Linked DNA regions of Homo sapiens: regions 1 and 3 are each linked to region 2. Evidence: fine-mapped expression QTL. A gene starts in region 2. Each other region holds a variant in brackets. All regions are shown on one strand. Distances are between the middles of the regions.

Evidence for each region. PIP is the estimated chance that this variant, and not a neighbour inherited with it, causes the effect.
Region 1: its variant is fine-mapped to the expression of PALS2 in tibial nerve (GTEx, PIP above 0.99).
Region 3: its variant is fine-mapped to the expression of PALS2 in skeletal muscle (GTEx, PIP 0.97).

Annotation. Positions count from the first base shown.
Region 1 is chr7:24,534,944-24,543,129 of GRCh38, reverse strand. It overlaps the pseudogene RNU6-1103P. Among named protein-coding and RNA genes, the nearest start is that of PALS2, 34 kb to the left of the region's middle. The variant C/T (reference allele first, on the strand shown) is at 4,090.
Region 2 is chr7:24,568,590-24,576,775 of GRCh38, reverse strand. It overlaps PALS2 (protein associated with LIN7 2, MAGUK p55 family member), which reads right to left and starts at 3,324. Exons shown (of 12, transcript NM_001303037.2): 1 at 3,183-3,324. RefSeq lists enhancers at 123-624, 2,456-2,575, 2,626-2,675, 2,621-3,120, 3,986-4,085 and 1 more and a silencer at 2,776-3,845.
Region 3 is chr7:24,463,908-24,472,093 of GRCh38, reverse strand. LOC124901601 (a long non-coding RNA gene) reads left to right here. Exons shown (of 2, transcript XR_007060259.1): 2 at 505-811. Among named protein-coding and RNA genes, the nearest start is that of PALS2, 110 kb to the left of the region's middle. The variant A/G (reference allele first, on the strand shown) is at 4,683.

The sequences.
Region 1 (8,186 bases), 34 kb after region 2:
TCATCCAAATTATATTATATAATATAAATATTTGCTAATTTGCTTAGGAGATTCATTTATCCCCTTTACAACAGCATCAAAAAGAATAAAATACTTAGAAATAAACTTAATAAAAGAAGTATACAACTTACATCTTGAAAACTATAAAACATTGTTGAAAGCAATTAAAGAAGGTCTAAATAAATAGAAAGGCATTTCGTGTTCACAGACCAGAAGACTTAATGTTGTTAAGATAGAAATATTCCCTAACTGATCTACAGATTAAATATAACTCCTCTTAAAATCCTGGAGAAACTTCTTGCAGAAATTGACAAGCTGATCCTAAAATTCACACGCAAATGCAAGGGACTCAAAATAGCCAAAACAATCTTGAAAGAGGAGAATAAAATAGAAAGACTCATAATTCCTGATTTCAAAACATGCTATAAAGCTACAGTAATCAAGACACTTTGGTACTGGCATAAGGAAAGACATAGACCAATAGACTAGAATTGAGAGACCAGAAATAAATCTCACATTTATGGACAGTTCATTTTCAACAAAATGCCAAGACAACTCAATGAGAAAAACAAACTTTTCAACAAAGGATACTGGAAAAACTGAATATCCACATATAAAATAATAAAATTGTACCCCTTCCTTACACCATACACAAAAATTAACTCAAATGGGTCAAATAAGTAAATTCAAAGGTAAAACTATAAAACTCTTAGAATAAAATCTAGGGGTAAAACTTTGTGACGTTGGGTCAGGCAAAGTTTTCTTAGATATGATACTGCTAAAAGCACAAGTGACAAAAGAAAAAGTAGATAAGCTGGACTTCTTCAAATTTAAAAAACTTAATCAGACATGGTGGGTCACACCTGTAATCCCAGTGCAAGGATCACTTGAGCCCAGGAGTTTGAGACCAACTTGGGCAGCATAGTGAGACAAAAATTCATCTCTACAAAAATAAAAATAAAAAATTAGCCAGGCATGGTGATGTGTGTCCATAGTTCCAACTACTTGAGAGGCTGTGGTGGGAGGATCACTTAAGCCTGGGAGTTTGGGGCTGTAGTGAGCCGTGCTTGTACCACTGTACTCCAGCCTGGATGACAGAGTGAGACCCTGTCTCAAAAAAACCAAAACCAAAAACAAAAACTTTTGCATTTCAAAGAATACCACCAAGAAAGGGAAAAGAATGAGTGAAAATACTTGTAAATGATATAGCTGATAAGGAACTTGTATCCAGAATACATACATGTCAGTAGTAGAAAGATTACCCTACTTAAAAAAAAGCAATGAATCTTAATAGACATTTCTCCAAAGAAGATATATAAATGTTCAGTAGGCACATCAAAGGATGCCCAATATCATTAGCCATCAGGAAAAAAAGTAACCAAAATCACAATGATATACCACTTCACATTGTCTAGGATGATTACATAGGAAGTAACAAGTGGTGCTGAGGATCCAGAAAATTTGGAACCCTGATTCACTGCTGTTAGGAATGATTAAGCATAGAATCACTGTATCATTCAGCAGTTCTACTCCTAGGTATATATCCAAGACATTAAGGAATATATCCACACAAGAAGTTGTATATGAATGTTCATAGCAACATTATTCATAATAGCTAACGAGTGGGACAATCTAAACATCTGTAAACTGATGAATAGATAAACATAATGTAGCATTATTTTGTTATAAAAAAAAGTACTGAGAGATGCTACCACATGGATAAATCTTGAAATATTAAGATAAAAAAAGAAGCCAGTCGCCAAAAAAACTCCACCCCACATATTATATTATTCCATTGATACAAAATGTCCAGAAAAGACAAATCTATAGAGACAGAAAGTCGATTAATAATTGGCTAGCACTGGGGGATTGGAGGTTAATGGAAAGTGACCAGTAATCTGTACGGAATTTCTTTATAGGGTGATGAAAATGTTCTAAAATTGATTGTGGCTGGGCGCGAAGGCTCGTCTTTGTAATCCTAGCACTTTGGGAGGCTGAGACAGGTGGTTGGCTTCAGCCCAGAAGTTTGAGACCAGCCTGGGCAACATGGCAAAACGCTGTCTCTACAAAAAAATACAAAAATTAGCCGGGTATGATGGTACACACCTGTAGTCCCAGCCACTTAGGGGGCTGAGTTATGAGGATCACTTGAGCCCAGGAGGTTGAGGCTGCAGTGAGCAGAGATCGTGCCACTGCTCTCCAGCCTGGGCAACAGAGTGAGACTCTGTCTCAAAAAAAAAAAAAAAAAAAAAAAAAAGTGATTGTGGTTAGGGTTGCACAACTCTGTTAATATGCTAATAACCTTTGAATTGAACACATTAAATGAATGAATTGTATGTGAATTATATTTCAAAGCTACTAGTTATATAAGGTACGCATACTTACATAAATATATGTGTATGCTATATATGCTTTACTACTTACATAAAGTATATACACATGTATATACATACTTTTTATATTGAAAAAACTGATATACAGTAAATATAGTAAAAATGTACCCCAAACATTTCCAGCGTGCTTGCTGTGCAGGCACTTGGATATAAAGACCAAAAGTTCCTGACTCTTTCTACCCTAGGAGTTCGCATGTTGATGGGTAGCTTCATGCGTCTCTGTAGGAGCTATGAGTCAAGCTATCTCCGACAGAGACCAGTGGCTAGTGTTCCCCAACAGACCTCAGCTAAAGGTCTCCAGTTAAAAGTGAGTCAGATTCAACATTCTCTTTGAGGTGTCTTACTTCCCTGCTTCTCTCTTTCGTCCCTAAAATGTTGAAATATTTAAGGTGCCTAAACTCATAATAAACCTAAAAAAAAAAACCACCTAAAAAGCCATGGTTCTCAGCAGGAGGACAATGGATAAAATATTTGAAAAAGAAGAATTTTATTCTGGCTTGTTTTCTTCACAGCTGAAGGCCTTCAGCCGTTTCCAGTCCAGTATCACTCTAGGCATGGAATTTTGGGCAGTAGAAAACATTTAGCGTTTGTCCATCATTTAGATCTAGATTAAAAATGAATGTATTACATTTGAACCCTGGTAATTTCTAATATTTCATATTCAACAATATCATGTCACTCATTGTTATGTACCATATGGTGCTTGAGCTAAAGATACACTAGTGCCAAGGTTATCAGAGAATATCCAACTCAGCGTGGACGACAGACATTATAGAAATAATTGTGAAGGAAAAATGTTAGATGCTGTGGGAACTGCTAACCTGTGGAAACCAAAGCATTAATGTGAGGAGGTAAATTTTATGCTGAAACCCAGGTAAAGGTGTGAAGGTGGTTACAGGTGTGGTCAAGATGGCAGTGCCTATAGAGAAGAGTATGGCAGGCTGGGGAAGAGCATGGGAGAAGGTCCCAGCAGAGGGAAATCTAGCAGAAAGAAGCTCATGCAGCTGAGTGTGAGGATTGAGGAGAAAGGGTATGAGATAAGACTGGTGAATTAGATGTGGATGGGACAGGCAAGGCCTTAAAGGCTGGGGTGAGAAGTTCAGATCTTGTTGTAGGGTCAGTGGGAAACCATTGAAAGTTTTAAGTGTGGAGCGCAGTAATCAGATATTTAAAGAGATCCCCGGGGCTGTTTTGTGAAAAACTTTTCAAATATGCATGTCATAACAGAAATATTTTTTAAAAAGAAGTTCAATTACATGTTTTCACTTCAAAATTTTCTTAATTTTGAAAACTCAGATGAAGCTTACAACTTCTTTATTAGAAATGACAAGTAAAATGCCATATTCAACTGATCCTATTTAATCACTGGATCATTCAGGGACAAAGCATAGAGAGTTTGTTTTTCAGTGATATTTTTCCTCATTCCAAACATTTGAAATTTGAAATTCAATAAAAACATGAACAAAGATACTTTTTAAGTTTCTAGGACAAATGTCACAAAAGCAAACAAATGGAGTACCAAATAAATTTTCTGAGGCTCAGTGAGTAGGGTGGGCAGTGGATGGCAGAGTTTGTGGGTGTTGGTATGCTGAAAATTCTGGGGCTTCTCTGTTGACTTCTAAAGAAGTTGAACAGGACCCCAGTGCTAAGTCCTAGAGAATGTGTGACAACATTCCCAAGAATGACCAACCCTAGG[C/T]AAATGTAAAATTAGGTTAGTATTAGAAAAAGAGATGACTAATTTCTCTGAGTGGCCTAAATACATTTTTTCTTAATTCCAGTCTTTAATTAGCTCAACAAGTATTTATTGGCATTCTATTTTGTGTAAGGACTGGTACTAAGTACTGAGATCTTTATATGTTTCTACCTATCTATCTATCCATATCTTTTAAAAAAATTTTTTTATTATACTTGAAGTTCTAGGGTACATGTGCACAACGTGCAGGTTTGTTACATATGTATACATGTGCCATGTTGGTTTGCTGCACCCATTAACTCGTCATTTACATTAGGTATATCTCCTAATGCTATCCCTAGCTACCCCCATCCCTACCCCCTACCCCCACCCCACGACAGGTCGTGGTGTGCGATGTTCCCCACCCTGTGTCCAAGTGTTCTCATTGTTCAATTCCCACCTATGAGTGAGAACATGTGGTGTTTGGTTTGCTGTCCTTGTGATAGTTTGCTCAGAATGATGGTTTCCAGCTTCATCCATGTCCCTACAAAGGACATGAACTCATCATTTTTTATGGCTGCATAGTATTCCATGGTGTTTATGTGCCACATTTTCTTAATCCAGTCTATCATTGATGGACATTTGGGCTGGTTCCAAGTCTTTGCTATTGTGGATAGTGCCACAATAAACATACATGTACATGTGTCTTTATAGCAGCATGATTTATAATCCTTTGGGTATATACCCAGTAATGGGATGGCTGGGTCAAGTGGTATTTCTAGTTCTAGATCCTTGAGGAAACACCACACTGTCTTCCACAATGGTTGAACTAGTTTACAGTCCCACCAACAGTGTAAAAGTGTTCCTATTTCTCCACATCCTTTCCAGCACCTGTTGTTTCCTGACTTTTTAATGATCACCATTCTAACTGGTGTGAGATGGGATCTCATTGTGGTTTTGATTTGCATTTCTCTGATGGCCAGTGATAATGAGCATTTTTTCATGTGTCTGCTGGCTGCATAAATGTCTTCTTTTGAGAAATGTCTGTTCATATCCTTTGCCCACTTCTTGATGGGATTGTTTGATTTTTTCTTGTAAATTTGTTTAAGTTCTTTGTAGATTCTGGATATTAGCCCTTTGTCAGATGAGTAGATTGTAAAAATTTTCTCCCATTCTGTAGGTTGCCTGTTCACTCTGATGGTAGTTTCTTTTGCTGTGCAGAAGCTCTTTAGTTTAATTAGATCTCATTTGTCAACTTTGGCTTTTGTTGCCATTGCTTTTGGTGTTTTAGTCATGAAGTCCTTGCCCATGCCTGTGTCCTGAATGGTATTGCCTAGGTTTCTTCTAGGGTTTTTATGGTTTTAGGTCTAACATTTAAGTCTTTAATCCATCTTGAATTAATTTTTGTAAAAGGTATAAGGAAGGGATCCAGTTTCAGCTTTCTACATATGACTAGCCAGTTTTCCCAGCACCATTTATTAAATAGGGAATCCTTTCCCCATTTCTTGTTTTTGTCAGGTTTGTCAAAGATCAGATGGTTGTAGATGTGTGGTATTATTTCTGAGGGCCTCTGTTCTGTTCCATTGGTCTATATCTCTGTTTTGGTACCAGTACCATGCTGTTTTGAAAAATATGCAATGCTTCACAAATCTGTGTGTCATCCTTGTGCAGGGGCCATGCTAATCTTTTCTGTATAGTTCCAATTTTACTATATGTGCTGCCGAAGCGAGCACATATCTATCTATATCTCTTTATCTATCCATCTTGATAAGGAGCAACAATCATTTGTAGATGGCCCATTTTGTCGATGGAAGTAAGTCTTTATTACAGAAAAATTCATTTACAGCTTATTTTGAAGACTTAATAGACAGATCTAATCTTATCTTCCCAAACAAAACAATATTCTTCCTAACAGACTGCAATTCCAGTAGTAAATGTTTTTAGAAAGAAATCTTGGGGCATATGGCATAAAAATAGATTCATGGGACAATAGAATAAAATATTTGAACTCACAACTGTCCATGGAAATTTTAGGAATATATTGTCATTTATCTGTATCATTGCATTCACCAGGTTTCAACATTATTAGTATTACAAAAGCTCCATTGTCATTCACTAAAAGCAGAAGTGACTCTGAGACACACCACTTTTATCCATACAACACGATATCCATCAATCATCCATATGCCTCCTGCATTCATAAAATCATGCAGCACATGCTATATGTGGAAACAAACTGATTTTTGCTTTCTATTATGATTTATATCATTATTCACACTCCACTGTAGTCTCTTTGGGAAGAGTTGGTTACCATTAGCGTTTGCTGTCAATCAGATTTTGCTTCTTTCCTTACTTACCCTTTTTTCATATCTGAACTACAGTAAAAGAACAAGACAAGAATAGAAGTCCTAATATTAAAAAAAGATCACAGAATATATGACCTTTAACCAACGCTGTGATCATTTGCTTCTTTTTAAAATAAGATATATAATTAGAACTGAAAAATGCCAATAAAATCCAGTCATTTGTATCTTTTCCTCATATAAAGAAAAGTTGGAAAATTAGTTGAAATGGAAAATGATTTTTAAGGTTTAATGCAGAATAATTCTTTAAAGTCATGACTAAGACTGATCATCTACTCAAGGTATTCACATTTCAAAGCATCCATTTAGCTTGCAACCTTATTTTAATCATACAGGGCCTCAATATCTTCCTGCCCTGCAGGTTTTTGTTTTCAATGGGCATTTATTTAAAAAGAAACTCCAGATTTATAAATAGATTAGGTGTGATGCTAATTCCTTAATTCTAGGAGGTTAGACTTTCATATTTAAAAAGGTCACTTATTTTTTCAATAGCAAACATTTAGGAGGTATTCATTAGGTACCTGGCATGGCTTTAGATTCTGACCTACAAAGACTTCAAGTCATGATTTTCCCATTTGGAGAAGCTTACCTTTTAGTGAGGAAAGTATGCGTGTTAAAAAAAAAAATCTACATACCTATCTATCAATCTGACAATAACACGTGGAAAGTGCTAACAGATAATGAAAACAGAACATGAGCCCTGAAGGCAGCATCACTGAGGAAGTATCACTGAACTGGAAACTTTCCTAGAAAAAAAGGAGTTTGTGAGATGAAGGAGGAAGAGGAAGGGAGAAAAAAATACAAGTGTCAGAGTTCCTAAAGGGGCTTGGTATTTTGGGGACTATCGGCCTGAGCACAGGAAGCATGGGATGAGTGCAAATGAGTTTATAGTGAAAAATATAATATTACATAATGATAAGTGAAATGTCACAGTAGAACACCAAATTTTTCCAGATATTTGCTATGCATATTCATATCTATCTATCTGACTCTCTCTCTCCTATCATCCATCTATCTATATCTATCTATCTATCTGTCTGTCTATCTATCTATCTATCTATCTATCTATCTATCTATCTATCTAATCTTCTAGGTAGCTAGCTAATCATCTATCAATCTGTATAACCATCCATCTATCTTTCTCCTCTAATGGTATCACACTTTAATTTCCCACAGAAATGTTTTGTATTTTGCAAACTGCTTTTTCTTAATACATCTTGAATACAATACAAATCATAGACAAGCAAATGGAAAACAACAAAGAGCAGGGGTTGCTATTCTTATATCAGACAAAACAGAGTTTAAACCAACATCAATCAAAAAGGACAAAGAAGGGCATTACATAATGATAAAAGGTTCAATTCAATTAGAAGTCTTAACCATCCTAAATATATATGCACCCAACACTGGAGCACCCAGGTTCATAAAACAAGTTCTTAGAGACCGGTGGAGAGACTTAGATAACCACGAAATAATAGAGGGAGACTTCAACATCCCACTCACAGTATTAGACAGATCATCAAGGCAGAAAACTAACAAAGATATTTGGGACTTAATCCCAACACTTGACCAGATAGACCTAGCAGATATCTTCAGCACACTCCACCCAACAACAGACTGTACATTCTTCTCATCTGCACCTGGCATATACTCTAAAATTGACCATACACTCAGCCTTAAGGCAATTTTCAACAATTCAAAAAAACCAAAATCATACCAACCACACTCTTGGACCACAGCATAATAAAAATAGAAATC
Region 2 (8,186 bases):
ATTTGTTTAAAGGGTTTGGATATAGATACACTTCACAGAAGAGTGATGATCTTTCCAGATCCTTCCAGACAACTAATATCTGTGTACTCTAAGCAAGCAATTAAACCTACACTGCTTCTAAGATTAATGCAAGTAAAGTCGGATCTTTGAAAGCTATAATGTATTCAGGAATCTTATCTTTCATTATGTTAGAGGCATACTTAGACCACTTAACAGTAGACTGTTAATAACACAGTCTATAAAGAATGATACTTTGTAAGCATGCTGTGAGTTAAAGAAAGAAAAGTCATTAAACACCTTGATTGAGACTTGCTTCAGAGTGCATCCTCCTCAGCACACTACCCAGCAGTTTGACAAAGTGCCCAGGATTAGCAGCCAATGTATGTAAAGAAGGAATATGGTCAAGCCCAATTGTAAAGTCTCCCCCCAGTGGTCAGATACAAGTAACAGAAAAGGAGGAAAATCATTGCAGCTTCTGTGAGACTGAACAGGAAGACTAAACAAAACTGGTCCCTACAACAAAAAAATAAAATCTTTAATTCAATACTAGCACCATATCAGGAAAGAGATCTCTTGTGCTTATCTGCTCTTATATTTATAAATGTGAAGACTACTTTTCTAAAGAACCTACAGTTAAAACAAAACTAGCATAATTTTTCTCCGCCTAAGTTTTAAGGAATAACTGACATATTCCCAAACAGTTCAGTATTTATCAAATGGGTAAGTGTTCATTCTTCCTGAAATAAACATCAGCACATCACTTACATGGTTAACTATACTTACCTGAAGTAGAGTTCTGATTTAAAAAAAAAAAATCTAGTCACTCATCAAGTGAATCACTCTGGAAGGAAAAATTATTAACTATTATATACCTAATGTGAATTTTACAAGATACTCTTTTTCAAAAGTCACCTAGCAATAGGTAATTTATATTAGAGTGATGTCAAAAGTATAAATGCGTCCTCTTACCTCTTTTAATTTTATTTTCTGGCTGTTTTTTTACAATTAGCCTTTGACTAGCACTAATCCTGTATTATTTGTAACTCTCTCAGCAATAATATGATGCTACTCCATTTTTACAAAGCTCAGATGTCAAAAATATGAAAGACATTTAATTAAAATATCTGTTTTATTCTGCTAATCCATTATTAAGTAGTAAAGCATGTAAAGGGATAGTAAATATTCAAACAAGCAACTTCAATTTTAAAACAACTTTTTAAAAAGATAACACATAGAGTCACAGTTATGTCTTCTTGGTTATCTCAAGCTAAAAAGAGGGGGAGTGGGGAGAGAAAGAGAGAAGCAGGCTATGTAGTGCTCTGGAACAATTTCAGCCTAAAATGAGACTCAGAAGCAAACTGCTCCCTCAAATGTTTAAAAATATGATTCATTTTTAAAAATCCAACAGTTGGCCTAAAGAAAAAAAAAGATTCTGTCTTATATAGAGCTACTAGACTTGCTTAAACACCTTAATTTTTCCAGTGTTGATTTAACCTAGAATGCAAAATAATTCATTTTGACATTCCAGATGTCAAGAATTCGGTGGCATCAGTAAGGACACATACACACCTCTTTCATAAAGATGGTGTGCAGTCTCCATAGGACAAAATTGAGCAATTAAAAGTGTTACCATTTGTGTATTATGTAACCGTAGTCCAGAATGAAGGAAACATGGACCTTAAAGAGTAACACATCGTGCAAACACGCATTTAAACACCTATTTAAATATATGATAGATTTAAGGTACAAATGACCTCAAAATGACACAACCCACAAAAGTTCTTTGTTTACTGTTAACAAGGCCTCAGAAGACATAACTATAATCAGGCCTACTACCCACTACCCTATCATTGCACAGTAGATGCCTACAATAAGCAATATTACTTGAGGTCCGTTGCTATACCTATATACGGAAACTATATACCGCATTACTAAAAATGTTACTTCGCCTGGTATATTCGACCAACATAAGTTTACAAATGATTTGCAAAATTTCACGGGAAGAAATGGCTGCTAAATCATACTCCAATTGAAACGCATTTTAACGCACCCCAAACGTTCTCAGCTACACTACAAGACCACTTGTAATATACTTGAAGCACAAAGTAAAATTCCAACACTCTCCAAAGGCGTAGGAAAGAATAAAACGTGGCTAGCCTGACCTTACCCGGCTGTTTATAAGTAATGCGGAGAATTTTCTGAGCTTCCCCGGCAGTCTTCAATTCTCTCCCTCGCTTCACCCCCACCCCCTACACAGATGCACACCCAACTGATGGAAGTTTAACAAATGTAATCTCGAGCTGCAATCCCAGAAACTGGTAGGATTGAGAATAAACTCCCAGTAAAGTGTTAAAAAGTCCTTCTGCAAAAAAACATCTACCAACCAATCCACATCCTGTCACCACACGGTCGGATACCTCAATCGACTCCCCTGCTGACCCTCCACCCAGCCAAAATAAAAAAGCCCCAGCACCTATTTGGTTTCAGACAAACGTACCGAGAATCCGCGAGCACGATCTCAGCAGCGAACGCCCCCGCGGCAGCCTGTGCTCGGCCCACAGCCACTTTGGCCAAACAACTGGAGTCTCGTACCTCGGAAGTAGCGGCGGTAGTTGGAGAAAGCCTCCTCCCCTACCAACTCCGAGCTCGGGAGAGAACCGGGAGCCGGCGGAATCACCCCCTCTCGGGACAGACCCCGGAGGTGTCAGTCACAGCAACGCCGCCCCCAGGCCGGCTCTCCATTCAGGCTCCACCGCGACTCCCGCCGCAGAGGTGTAGGCACCCAAGCCCCGCGCCCGAAGGGGCCCCGCGCGTCTGCGGCCCTAGCCCCAGTCGGGGCCGCGCCGGGGAGCGCGTGGGGAGCGGCGGCAAGCAGCATGGGCCAGACACGTTGCCGAGCTCCGGCCCGCCCAGCCGCCCGCAGCCAGAGAGGCAGGAGCCCGGCCGAGCGCCCCTTCCGCGCGGGCCGGGCTGGGGGCGGCCAGCAGCCTCCCCGACCGCGGCGCCGCCGCCGCCGCCTGCCGGTCCCTCTTCCCCGCGCCCGCCGAAGCCCAGGTGCCGAGGGGGGCGGGGCGGGCCAGGGTCCCCGCGTGGCGCGCCGCGCCGAGCAACAGGGCGCCCCCGGCCGGCCCGGCGCGCGGCGCGACCGTTACCCGAGCGGCGTGGGGGTCCAGTTAACTCACCGGCTCGCACCTCAGCCGCCTCCGCGCCGCCGCTGCCGCCGCTCCCGGTCGCTCCCCGCCGCCGCTGCTCTCCCTCAGCCACAGGCGCCGCCGAGCAGCCCCATCTGCAAACTCGTGGCTCGTAGTTGAGAACTGGAAATGCGTCTCTCACTGCCCTCCGCCTCCCTCTCTCTCCTCCCCCTCCCTCGCTCCCCACTCTGCCCCAGCTCCGGTCGCCCCCGCCGCTGCCTCCGCGCGCGCAGCCAGCCGCGCCTCAGCCGCCCTCCTCCTCCTCCTCCTCCTCCTCCTCCTCCTCCAGCCGCCGCCGCCGCCGCCGCTTGGGCGCGCTCCCAGCCGGCCTCGCGCGTGCGCCGGACGTCGGGGAGCGCGCGCTCGGGCGCGAGGAGGTGCCACCGCCTCCGGAAAGCCGGGCCCCGCCCCTCCCGCCGCGGCTGGGCGCCCAGGTGGAGCCCCCTCCCAGCTTCTGAGCGCCCAGACTGACTGCGCTCTGCGCCCGGCCGGCTCGCTTCAGGGGTCCCGGACCTGCGCCCGCGAGAGAGGGCTGGTCGGACCCAGTCCCCGCCGGGTCTCCTGGGCCGAAGTCGCAGCTGTCTGTCAGCATTTACGGGTGGGCAAGATACTCCTCGGGGCATAAAACAGGCTCCGCCCTGACCTTTCTGAGAGTTTTACATTCAAGAACCCAGTCGTGGGGCACAAAAGAGAAATGGAACGAGAAGAAAAGCCTCTGGAAAAATCTCCCCCTCCCCCTTCACAGACTCCACTGGATCTGATGTGTATTTGGCAGGTTCTACGGCGCTGACTGTGTCCTTCATTAATTTTTTCCCAAAGGCCCGACCGGGCAGTGTGATTCACACCCGAGGAAATGCATGGACACTGGCTCTTTTCATAGCACCGAGGCTCCCGTGGAACTCCCTGGGTCGGCTTTGCCAGACACTCCCTGGACACAGTTGTTCAGCTCCTCCCCAGCACCTGGGCTTCCCAGACCTCAAAAGGGTGGGGTTGGGGAGGGCATGCCATCCTTTCAGCCTGGACTCTGCGTAGAGCTTGGTGAACTGTGATGAGTGTCCGGATGTGTAGATGACACATTTTGACAGAAGTGCAGATTTAATTTTTCAGTTGAAAGGAACTGAGCAATGCACTGCAGCAGAGACTTCTGGCTAGAAAAACATAGCAAGGCAGCCAGAGAACTTCCGATCCCCTTAAAAGAGCTCTGTGAACCCTCAGACCTGTGACAGGCGGCTTTTGGAAAAACTATTGTGTTCTTCCTAAAATTGAAGAATGTAATTTACATTTTACAAAATGCTTACTGCAATCTTTTCAAACCATGAACGTAGAAAGTGCAAGTCAAACTTTACGTGTGAGGAGTGTTATGAGGTGGCCTCCTCTGTGCAGCCTTTCCTGGCTTCTCTTGGGCACCTTGCACAAACCAGACCATTAATAAGTGTTTGCAGAATAAATGCGTGCATCATGGCCCTTTGGATTCAGAGATGAAGTTATAAGTTGTATTGTCTCCTCTCTTTGTGAATGTGGCAGGCATGGAAGGGAGAGAGAAAATACTATTGATGAGATGTATTAAGAAGGTCCAGTGTCCAAAACAGTGATTTTTGTGTTTATCCTCAACCAAGCATCAAAGATTAATTTACTTTTCCATTAGGATCATTAATTTTGCAAACCAACATGCAGGGGGGCCTTGTACAGTGTTAATTTAGAACCTTCTTTCCTGGAACCACAAACCCAGGCAAAGGTAATTGGAAGCATTTAAGGAGACTCAAACGTGCCCAGGGCACAGAGTAGCTTTGGGCCCCCTGTAGTCAGGATGGCTGGATGAAATGAAGTGGAGTGGGCTCGGAGCCCAAGGCAGAGACAAAGCGGAAGGATGGGGTTTGTCTTCTCGGGGTGTCAGCAAGACCTTTCAGGTCCTTCTTGCTGCCCCAGGCCCACTTGCTTCTCACAGGACACCCATGGGTCCTCCCTGCTGTACCCTACCCAGGCTTGTGAACTCTTTTCCCTTCTGACTCTTAACCTTAACACATCCCCTTGGACCCAGCCACTTAGTTACTTGCCCTGAGCTTCTCTGGGGTTGGGGTGGGAGGTAGGGTATGAATGTCATTTCCAGATATGTTAGTGATCCTTAATAGTGCACTTTTATTTCCTCAAGGGTCTTCTGGAAACAATGTCCTAACCTACTCTACCCCTGCTCCCTGCAAGTAGAATGATGTTAACTGAGGAAGTTTTAGGGAGGGAGGGTTTGGGGTAGGCTCTGCCCCTCAAATTACATGCAGACCTACCTGACTTAAAGCTGGCACCACTCCTGGCCAACTGCTTTATCTCTGCATCTACCAGAGACCCAGCATTTGGGAGCAGGAATACAGGAACAATTATCTTTCATTTGCAGTTCCAAGTCTGTGCTCTAAGTAATGACAGCAGCTATCAGATGGAGGCTTATCACTGCCGTAAGACTCAGCTTCATTCTTAGAGTCAGAAAAATGATTTTGCTCCAATAACTGTCTTTGATTGCTCCCCTTCAGAAAGCTCTTGCCGGTGAAGTTCCTCTCTCAGTGTCAGATGAGTATTGTATCAAATACTCATATACAGTTATAAAAGGAAACACTATTTCCTTTTATAAATGATATTCCCATTTTATAACATTCTGCCCTTCCTCTAAACTTTAAAGGTGGGACATGCCAGGATAAATTTAAAGTGTTCTCAGTTAAACATTGGAACTCCCATCATTGGTTCCCAACTCAGCTTTCTGAGAGGTCATCATACTGAGACACCACCATCCATTTCCCATACCGGTTACAAATTCTTCATTCCAAGAAAGGGGAATGATATGATTGAGAATGATGGTGGATCTTTCTCTTCAGTGTCCTTAATAGTCTGACTTTTCATTTCCTTCAAGGTTACTCTAAAGGGATCATAATTTTACCACAGCCCAGTATCTCCCAACGGTAATTCAATTTAAAATTTGAATTTTGATTCTTAATTCAGGAGCATCCATCACTCAATTTTGTTTCCTCCTTCAAATGTAAACAACATACACTTTTAATGTGATTACATTTTCTTTTCTCTTCTGACCTGCTTTGCTCCTACAGAAATTGAGAATTTTGCTAATAGCCCCGAATTTTAGCAAAAGCAAATCCTGTGTACTTGTTTTTCAACTAATCCATCATAGTAAAAGCAGTGACACTCCTGGAGGATAGCTTTATTTAAAAATGCAACTGGCATGCATCACAAAGTCCAACCAAGTTTTCCTTCAGAATACTTTATTTAGCTTCACTCCTTTTATCTCTGCTCACAAAGCTAGGTCAGATTCCAATTTCCAGCCTCCTTGCTAACCTTTCTAATTCTAGCCTCTCTCTTGCTTCCTTGCAATTTATCCTATACTCAGAGCAGTGCTTCTTAATTTTTGGCTCTTTATTGAAATCACCCAGAGAACTTTAAGAAACAAAACAAAGCACTGATGCTTTGATGCCATCCCAGACTTAATTGCTCTGGAGCACAGCCTGGGTGCCAGGATTTTTTCAGAGCTCTCCAGATAACTCTAATACGCAGCCAGAGTTAAGAACTATGGAAATGAATCATCTTCCAAACAACATTTATACCAAATCTTCACAACAGTGGGGTAGCTCCAAATTACCTCGAGTAATCAAATTAAAATTCCTAATCCTGTGCTTTAAGACTCTTTGCCAATTGACTAGAATAGTCCCCTTTCAAAACAGCTTAAATTTATCTCCTTCCTAAAGCTTCTCCAGATTAGTCTCACCTGGCTGCCTGAAGATCACCGTTCCCAGCTCTGAGCATCCCGACTGGCACTGGTTTACAAACCGCTGGACCTCAGTTGATTGTGTACATTATTGTTTTAATCTTGCTTTCATAGATATTTGTCAGAGGCTTTTCTTATAATCTAAATCTTTCCAAAAGTCCCACTGGGTCAACTGTCTCAAACAGAAATGTCTTAGCAGAACTTTCTCCTCTAAACTAGCTGTCTGAAAAAACATTTCCTGATACGATGGCAGTTCTTTTTTTTTTTTTAATCATCACAATTAAAGCCAAACATTATAAGAACTTGAGTTTTGGGGTTGTTTGGTTTTTCCTTAAAAAAGAAAACTATATATCTCAGCATATCTCCTTGACTTTTCTTACCATTATTTGTTTATTTTAGGCATTGGAATTGGGCTTCCACACCCACTTCTCTGCTGAAACTACTATTTCCATCACAATTAACATTTTCATTCATGTGTTCATCCATTCAGTCACTCATTTACTAGTGAAGCATAATGAAAATAAAAAAATTAACAATATCAAGTAGTCCCTACCTAATGGCGAAGAATAATAAGCAAAATATTACATAATAAGTGCTATGCCAGGTGTCTTAATAGTATATGACAGAATTAGTGGGGAAGGTCTTTGCTTAGTGTTCATGCCATTGAACTTCTCTGCAGTGTTTGAGGAGGTTAATCTCTCGTACTCTCACTCTCTAAACCTCTCTTTTCCTTTAACTTCTCTGATACCATACCACCTGGGAGCTCTTTCGACCTCTCTGACTGTTCCATCTCTGACCCTTACTTTGCTGTGTTATCTCCTCCTACTTCCTAAAGAAAAATGTTCCACTAAGAATGAAATAAATTTTTGAGGAGAAACTTAAAAAGAGCAGATAGTACTGTTTATCTTGAGAATCCCAGGGATCCTTAGGACTCTAGCACCAATGCTTCCACATCTGTATCTATTCTCCCTTGAGGCATATTTTCAACTCGCTGTTGAAAATTTCCATCTAGATAAGCTATTCACGGGGTTGCTCCTGCTGGTTTTTCTGGCACCTTCCTTTCCTTTACCTCCTTTTACCATCTCCTGAACAAACACATACTCAAATCCCTTGCAGCCCACTTTCTCAAAATTATAGGAATGGATTCTCTTGTTTATTTGCTTTAGTCCTACAGAGTCTCCTAACTCATCTCCCTGCCTCAGGGCCTCCTTGCCCTGACTGCCAGGTGCCAGTCATTT
Region 3 (8,186 bases), 100 kb after region 2:
GTGACCTAGAAGCCAAATGAAGAAAGTGTTTTAAGGAAGAGAGAGTGATCACTGCTACTGATTATCGAATAATATGAGGACTCAGAATTGATCATTGGGTTTAGCAGCATTGGGTCATTGGTGACCTGACAAGAAGAGTTTTCACCAATTGTAATGAAAGCCTGATTGGAATGGGTTTAAGAGAGAGTGGGAAGACACTAATGGCAGTTCCTTTGAAGAGTTTTACTGCAAAGGCGAGAAAAATATTTGAGTGTATCTGGGGGAGTTTCTTTTAAAAGCTGGGAAAATGACAAGTTTGTTAAATGATGAGAATGATCAAGTAGAGATGTAAAAATGGATGATGTAGGAGAAAGGGGACACTTGTTAGAGTGATGTCCTTTGGTATAAGTGAAGGGATTTGCTTTATATCATGTGGTTTTAACACATGTCCACCCACAAGCCTAAAATAAAAGTTAAAAAAAAAAAAACTTGCCCATAATACTTTGACACTATTTCCTTCAATAGGTGGAGCTGCAAAATATGTGAAGCAAAAACTGCAAAATATGTGAAGCAAAAATTGATAGGACTGAAAGGAGGAACAGACAAACCCACAGTCATGGTTGAAAACTTTGATACTCCTTTCTCAACCATTAGCAGAATACCCAGACAGAAATCAGCAAGGACATGGAAAACTCAACACTGCTGAGCACCAGGATGGAATCAACATTTATGGAACGCTTCACCCAATAATAGCAGTGTCCATAGAATATATGTGAAATAGACTGTATCTTGGGCCGTAAAACAAACCTTAATGAATTTAAAAGAACGAAAAGGATACAGTGTGTTTTTCAACTACATTGAAATAAAAATAGAAATCTATAAAAAAGATAGGAGGAAAATCTCTAAACACATAGAAATTAACAATACACTTACAGGAGGAAAATCTCTAAACACATAGAAATTAACAATACACTTCTAAATAATCTATGGGTCAAACAGGAAGTCTCAAGGGAAATAAAGAAAACTAACTAAATGTAAGTCAAATTACAATGTATCAAAATTTGTGGGACACAGCTAATGCAGCAATGAGAGGGAAATTTGTAACACTAAATGTGTACATTAAAAAAAGGAAAACTCTTAAATCCATAATCTAAGCTCCTATCTCAAGAACCTAAAAAAAATTGCAAAATAAGCCAAAAACAAGCAGAAGGAATAAAATGAGAAGATTAGAATACAAATCAATAAAATTGAAAACAGAAAATAGTAAAAAATCAGTGAAACAGAGAACTGGCTCTTTGAAAAGATCAATAAAATTGAGAAACATCTTGCAAAACTGACAAAGACAAAAAGAAAAGACACAAATTACCAACATTAGGCAGGAAACAGGCTATCTTTATTGACCCTGAACATGTCAAAAGAATAATAAAGGAATACTATGAGTAACTCTACACACATATACCTGAAAATGTAGACAAAATAAACCAATTCCTGGAAAACCAAAAACGACCACAACTTACCCAACATGAAGTAGATTGAATAGTTTTATAACTACTAAGGAAATCAAATTTGTAATTTAAAAATTCCCCAGAACATCTTCAGGCCCAGATGGTTTCATCAGAGAATTCTACCATATGTTTAAAGAAGAGTTAACAACCAGTTCTACACAATCTCTTTCAGAAAATAGAAAGAAAGAAAAACTTCTCTATTCATTTTTTTAAAAGCTAGTATTGCCCTGATATCAAAACTCGACAAAAACAGCACAAAAAAGGAAAATTACAGACCAATATTCCTTATGAGTATAGACACAAGAATCCTTAATAAACTATTAGCAAATAGAATTCAGCAACGTATAAAATAAATTATATACCATGACAATGTGAGGCTTATTACAGGAAACAAAGTTGATTTAATATTTGATAATAAGCCAATGGAAGCCACCATATTATCAGGCTAAAGAAGTAAAATTTCATGATCATATCAATCATGGTAGAAAAAACATTTGACAAAATTCAATAATTCATGATAAAAAAACTCTCAGAAAATGGAATAGGGAGAACTTTGTCAACATTGTAAAGAGCACCTACAAAAAAATCTATAGCCAATGTTAAATTCAATAGTGAAAGACTGAATGTTTTCTCCGTTTTATCAGGACTTAAGCAAGACTGTTTACTCTTACTAGTCTTATTCAGCATAGTGCTGGATGTCCTAACTGGTACAATAAGGCAAGAAAAAAAAATAAAAGACATACAGTTTGGAAAGAAACAAATAAAACTATCCCTATTTGAAGATGACATAATAACCCACTTAGAAAATCCCCAAGAATTCACCAAAAAAAAAAAAAAAATTCTTAGGGCTAATGAGTAAGTTCAGCAAAATACAAGATAAACATCCAAAAATTGATTGTATTTCATATATTATCAATGAAACCCTGAAGACTGAAATAAAAATACTAACATTATTTATAATTATTCAAGAACAAAAACGAAATACTTAGATGTAAATCTATAAAAACATGAATAGTACTGGTATGATGAAAACTACAAAACACTGATGAAAGAAATTTAAAAAAATGAAGAGATATACAGTGTTCATGGATTGGAAGACTCAACATATTACAGATGTCAATGCTCCCCAAATTGATATACAGGTTTAACACAATTTCTACTAAAATTCCAATAGGATTTTTTTGTGGATATAGTCAAGATTGTTATACAATTTATATAAAATAAGGAAGTAGTATAGCTAAAATATTTCAAAAAAGTTAAGGAAGAGGAAACAATCTACCCAGTTTTGACCTATTACGTAATCAAGACTATGAGGTACTGGTGAAGGGATAGACATATAGATCAATAGAACACAACAGAAAACCCAGCAATAGACTCATACAAATATGCCCAACTGATTTTTGACAAAGGTGCAAAACAGTTCATCAGAGGAACGATAAGTTTTCCAAGAAATGATGCTGAAGCAGTTGGACATTCACAAACAAAAAAATGAAGCCTCACCATAAACCTCACCCATTATATAAACATTAACTCAAAATTAATCACAGACTTAAATGTAAAACATAAACTTATCACGTTTTTTAAAATGGGAGAAAATCTTTAGGACCTTGAGCTGGACTAAGAGTCTTAGACTTGACACCAAATGTACAATTCATGAAAGGAAAAATTGATAAACTGTATTTTATCAAGACTAAAAAGTTTTGCTTTGCAAAAAACCCTGTGAAGAGTTGAAAAGATGAGCTACAGAGTAGGGGGTCGTATTCGTAAACCACATATCTGACAAAGGATTAGAATGTAGCATTTACAAAATACTTTCAAAACTCAAGAATAAAAAATTGAACAATCCAATTAGAACATGGGCAAAAGAAATGAAGAGACATTTCTCTGAAGAACATAAACAGATGGCTAATAAGCACATGAAAAGATGTTCACCATCATTAGCCATTGGGAAATGTAAATTAAAACTATAACGAGATATTACCACATATGGGTCAGAATGGGTAAAATCAAAAATAGTAGCAACACCACATTTTGGTGAGGATGCAGAGAAATGGAATCACTCATACATTGCTGGTGGGAATGTAAAATGGCATAGCCACTCTGGAAAACAGTTTGGCAGTTTCTTGAAAAACTAAACATGCAACTACCTTATGACCCATCAATTGTACTCCTGTGCATTTATTCCAGAGAAATAATGCATGCAAAACCTATACATGCATGTTTATAGAAGCTTTGTTTGTAATAGCCCTAAATTGGAAATAACCCAGTTGTCCTTCGACAGGTGAATGGTTAAACTGTGGTCCATCCCACCATGGAATATTACTCATCAATAAAAAGGAATGAACTACTGACATATACAACAAAGTGGACAATGGACTCTCCAGTGAATTACTTAGTGAAAAAAGTAAATCCCAAAAGGTTATACTATACAATTCAATTTATATAACATTCTTGAAATGACAAAATTATAAAAGTCTATTACAGATGTGTGGTTAACAGAAGTTAAGGATGGAGGAAGGGAAGAAGGTGACTGGAAAGTGAAAGTGGCTATCAAAGGATAAGATGGGGAGTCCTTGTGGTGATGGAAATGTTCTGAATCTTGACTCTATCAATGATAATATCTTCTTTGTGATATCACTATGGATTTACAAGATGCAGCCACTGGGGGGAAACTGGGTAAAGAGAACACCCATTCTCTCTGTATTATTTCTGACAACCGCATGGGAATTTACATTTATCTCTTAAAATGAAACATTTAATTTAAAACATTATTTTTTTTTACTTCCAGTTGCTTTTAAAATAAAATGCAAACAAAATGTGGCCCACAGGTGTCCACTGATCCTATCCTCTGCCTAACACCGCAACCTCTTATTGTACCACGTTTCTAACTCCAGCCACATTGTCGCTTTACTTTAATGACATTGAGCTCTCTTCTACTCCTGGTTCTTTGCATTTGCTGTTTCCTCTGCTTGGGAATGCTCTCTCCCCAGCTCTTTACATGGTTTCTCATTCAGAGCCTGCAGGTCTCAACTCAAACACCGCCTGCTCAGAGAAGCCAGCCTTTACTTGCAAATCATGGGAAAGGAGAGCAACTAAGCCCTGCAGCCCACTGCCTGGGGGCTGAATTGCAATACCTCCATCCAATAGCCTAAAGGCCTAGGCCATCAGACTTAACACCAGCTCTGTGTCTGTGTTCCC[A/G]TCTCTAAAATGGGCACCCTGTTAGTTTCTCCTTCACAAAATTGCTGTAAGAATTAAAGGGGGGCCAGGCGTGGTGGCTCATGCCTGTAATCCCAGCACTTTGGGAGGCTGAGGTGGGCGGATCACCTGAGTTTGGGAGTTCGAGACCAGTCTGACCAACATGGAGAAATCCCGTCTCTACTAGAAATACACAAATTAGCTGGGCCTGGTGGTGCATGCCTGTAATCCTAGCTACTCAAGAGGCTAAGGCAGGAAAATCACTTGAAACCGGGAGGCAGAGGTTGCCGTGAGCCGAGGTCACGCCATTGCACTCCAGCCTGGGCAACAAGAGTGAAACTCTGCCTCAAAAAAAAAAAAAAAAGGATTAAATGGGTTAACATAGTCATTTAAACTAGCACCTGAAATGCCATAAAGCCTACATAAGTGTTATTTATTATTATTTTAAAAACCTCCTGTAGTTACTCTCTATCTCTTTGGTTCTCAAGGTTTGATCCCTGGACCAGCAGTATCCCCATTACCTGAGAATTTGTGAAATATGCACACTTTCAGGCCATACCCCAGACCCACGGAAACTCTGAGGATGGAGTCCAGCAGTCTGTTTCAAGGAGCCCTACTGCTATGACTCCAATACGTGCCGCTTGAGTTTGAGGGCCATCAGTTTATCTCATCTGCCTGTTTACTTCCTTAATGTTACTATCACAGGTAGATATTATCTTTTTATTTATTTACATGATTAATGCCTGCATCTCCTTCCAGAAATCAGTATTCCACGAGGGCAGACTTATCAATCTTGTTCACTACTGTATCTCCAACTGTTGGCATAGCATCTGGCACAAAGTAAGCACTGATAAACTATTAACAAATAGACACATGAATGAACAAACTTGGCCAAGGTCATATTGTAACCAGGTACCCTGTTTTTAAGCTTTCTTTCTGTTGCCCTTTGTGTTAATTTCTTAGTAATGAAATAATAACCTTTACTCTCCTTTCCACCAGGCCCTCCCTTGCACTGGTAGCTTATCTAATTCTATGTTTGCTTAGAAGTTCCAAAGACTGAATCTTGAGACAATCCAGGTGCCTACGGAATTCTCCCCTACCAGGAGGTTGCTTCAAGGACACAGTTAATTTATAACCTGGTTGAGCCCAAGATGGCACCAGCCTATTCACCAGATGGAGCAGTAACTTAAGTCATCAGAACAAGTCATGTAGACCTGCACAGCCTTGCCCGTCTTGCATGCCCTTCACCCCAAACTCCTCTTTTTAACTCCTTTGCATTTTGCTTGAAAATTTGATACGGTTTCGTTAAGACAGGAGACTGGACAGTTTCTTCACTGCTAGCTATGGAAAAATAAAGTCACTGACTTTCTATCACAATTCATCCTTGTTATTCGGTTTTGCAAGTGGCAATCAACTGAATCTCCCTTTGGTTACAATCCATTTTTTAAATAACTGAACTGATGGATGTCGACTTCAGGCTGGCTTGCTCCCTCTGACACACTGAGAATCAATGGCACCCCAACTCCTAGTCATTACTCAGCAGTCCCAAGTTTCCCATATAGTGCTGTGCAAAACGGAAGTCACTAGCATGTAGAAACCCCCACTTCCAAACTGCATTTTAAATACAAATATGGCCACAACAGAGCCAGAGGTTCTTTGGTCATGGCAGTGGGCGCTTGCTCTTCCTATTGCATTGTGTTGTCCACTTCATTTTTACTTGTGATTGCCAAGGGAGCGTTTTCCTGTCATGGCAATGGGTCACCTTCTCTCTGTGGCTTTTAGTAGCTATGGCTGGTGAAGGGTTCCCTTCTCTTTGGGGGCTACTTTACATCTCAGTTTGGAGGCATCCCTTTTTCACCTTGGGTTTCAGTGGAGAGAAGATTCAGTACATAAGTACTCGCACTCTTTTCCGTGACACTACCATCTCTTCACTTTTCTCCTACTTCCCTGATCATTTCATCTCTGTCTCCTCTGTGGGCTTCTCTTCCTCAGCTTCTCATTGCTTCAGCTATTAGTTGCTCTCAGGGCCTGTTAGTTCCCTTTACCTGCACATTCCTAGGATGATCCCCTTCACTCCACAGCAGAATTTCCAATTCGAACCTCTTTGTTGGCACGTGGACCTCAGTGTCCCAAAGGAACCTCAGCACAGAATATTCAAGACTAAATGACTTATTTTCCTTTGCCCCTTCCTGTTATTCTCTTATATTTGTTAGTGGCACTGCCATCGATCCTGTTATCTGAGGCAGAAATCTGGGAGTGATTCTTTGTTCCTCTCTTTATCTCACTTCCTGTATCTTATCAGCATTCTAGTCCTTGAAATTGTACTCCTTATCATGCCTCACATCACCCCCTTACCCTCTCTGGTGCTAATCAGGGCTGCTGAATCACGTCACGTGGCCAGCCTGGCTGCAAAGCTTCAAGGATCTCACCTGGACTATTGTAATCATCTAATATCTTTGGTACTGGCCTTATATCTGTGTGAATCCTCCACACAACCACACTATGATTAAATAACTTTTTGAAATGCAAATTAGGCCCCTTTTGCTCCATTTTTTAAAATGATGTTAAAGGTCACGTGTTAAAGATATGATAAAATTCCTTAGTTTGCTGTACTAGGCCCTTCATAACTTCTGTGGATTGAATGTGTTCCCCAAAGATCATGTCTTGGAAAGTTAATTCTCAATACAACAATGTCATGTGGGGCCTATTGGGAGCTGTTTAGGTCATAAGAGCTCTGCCCTCATAAATGGATTTGAGTTGTTACGGCAGGAGTGGGTTTGTTATAAAAGCAAATTCAACACTGTCTTGCCCTGCCTTGCTCTCTCACCCATGTGATGCCTTTCTCTATGTTATGACAGAGCAAGAAGGCCTTCACCAGATGTGGCCCCTCAATCTTTGACTTCCCAGAACTTTCAGTCAAATGAATTTGTATTCGCTATAAATTACCTAGTCTGTGGTATTCTGTTATAGCAGCACAAAGTAGGCTAAAACAATGATCAATTCAGATGCCTCAATCTCTGTACCTTACTTCAAAACCTGCTGCTATGGACAGAGTTGGGTTTCCCCCCAGCATTCATAAGTTGACATCTCAGCCCCCAGTATGATGGTACTTGGAGATGGAGCCTTTGGGAGGTAATTAGGTCATGAGGATGGAGCCCTCATGAATGCGATTAATACCTTTATAAGAAGAAACAGGAGAGAGCCTTCTCTCTCTCTGCCATGTAAGAACACAAGAAGGCGGCTGTCTGCAACCCAGAAAGAGAGCTCTCACTAGGAACTGAATCACCTGGCACCCAAATCACTTCCCAGCCTCCAGAACTGCGAGAGAAGTAAATTTCTGTGGTTTAAGCCACCCTAGTCAATGGTATTTTGTTATTGCAGCTTCAGGTTACTACGATACCCATGCAACCTCCATACCAACCCTACCAGCATCATTAGCTTCTCAAAATCTTTTTGGCTGCACTGTCTCCTCAGGTAGAAATGAATATGCTCTTCTTTAAGCTCATC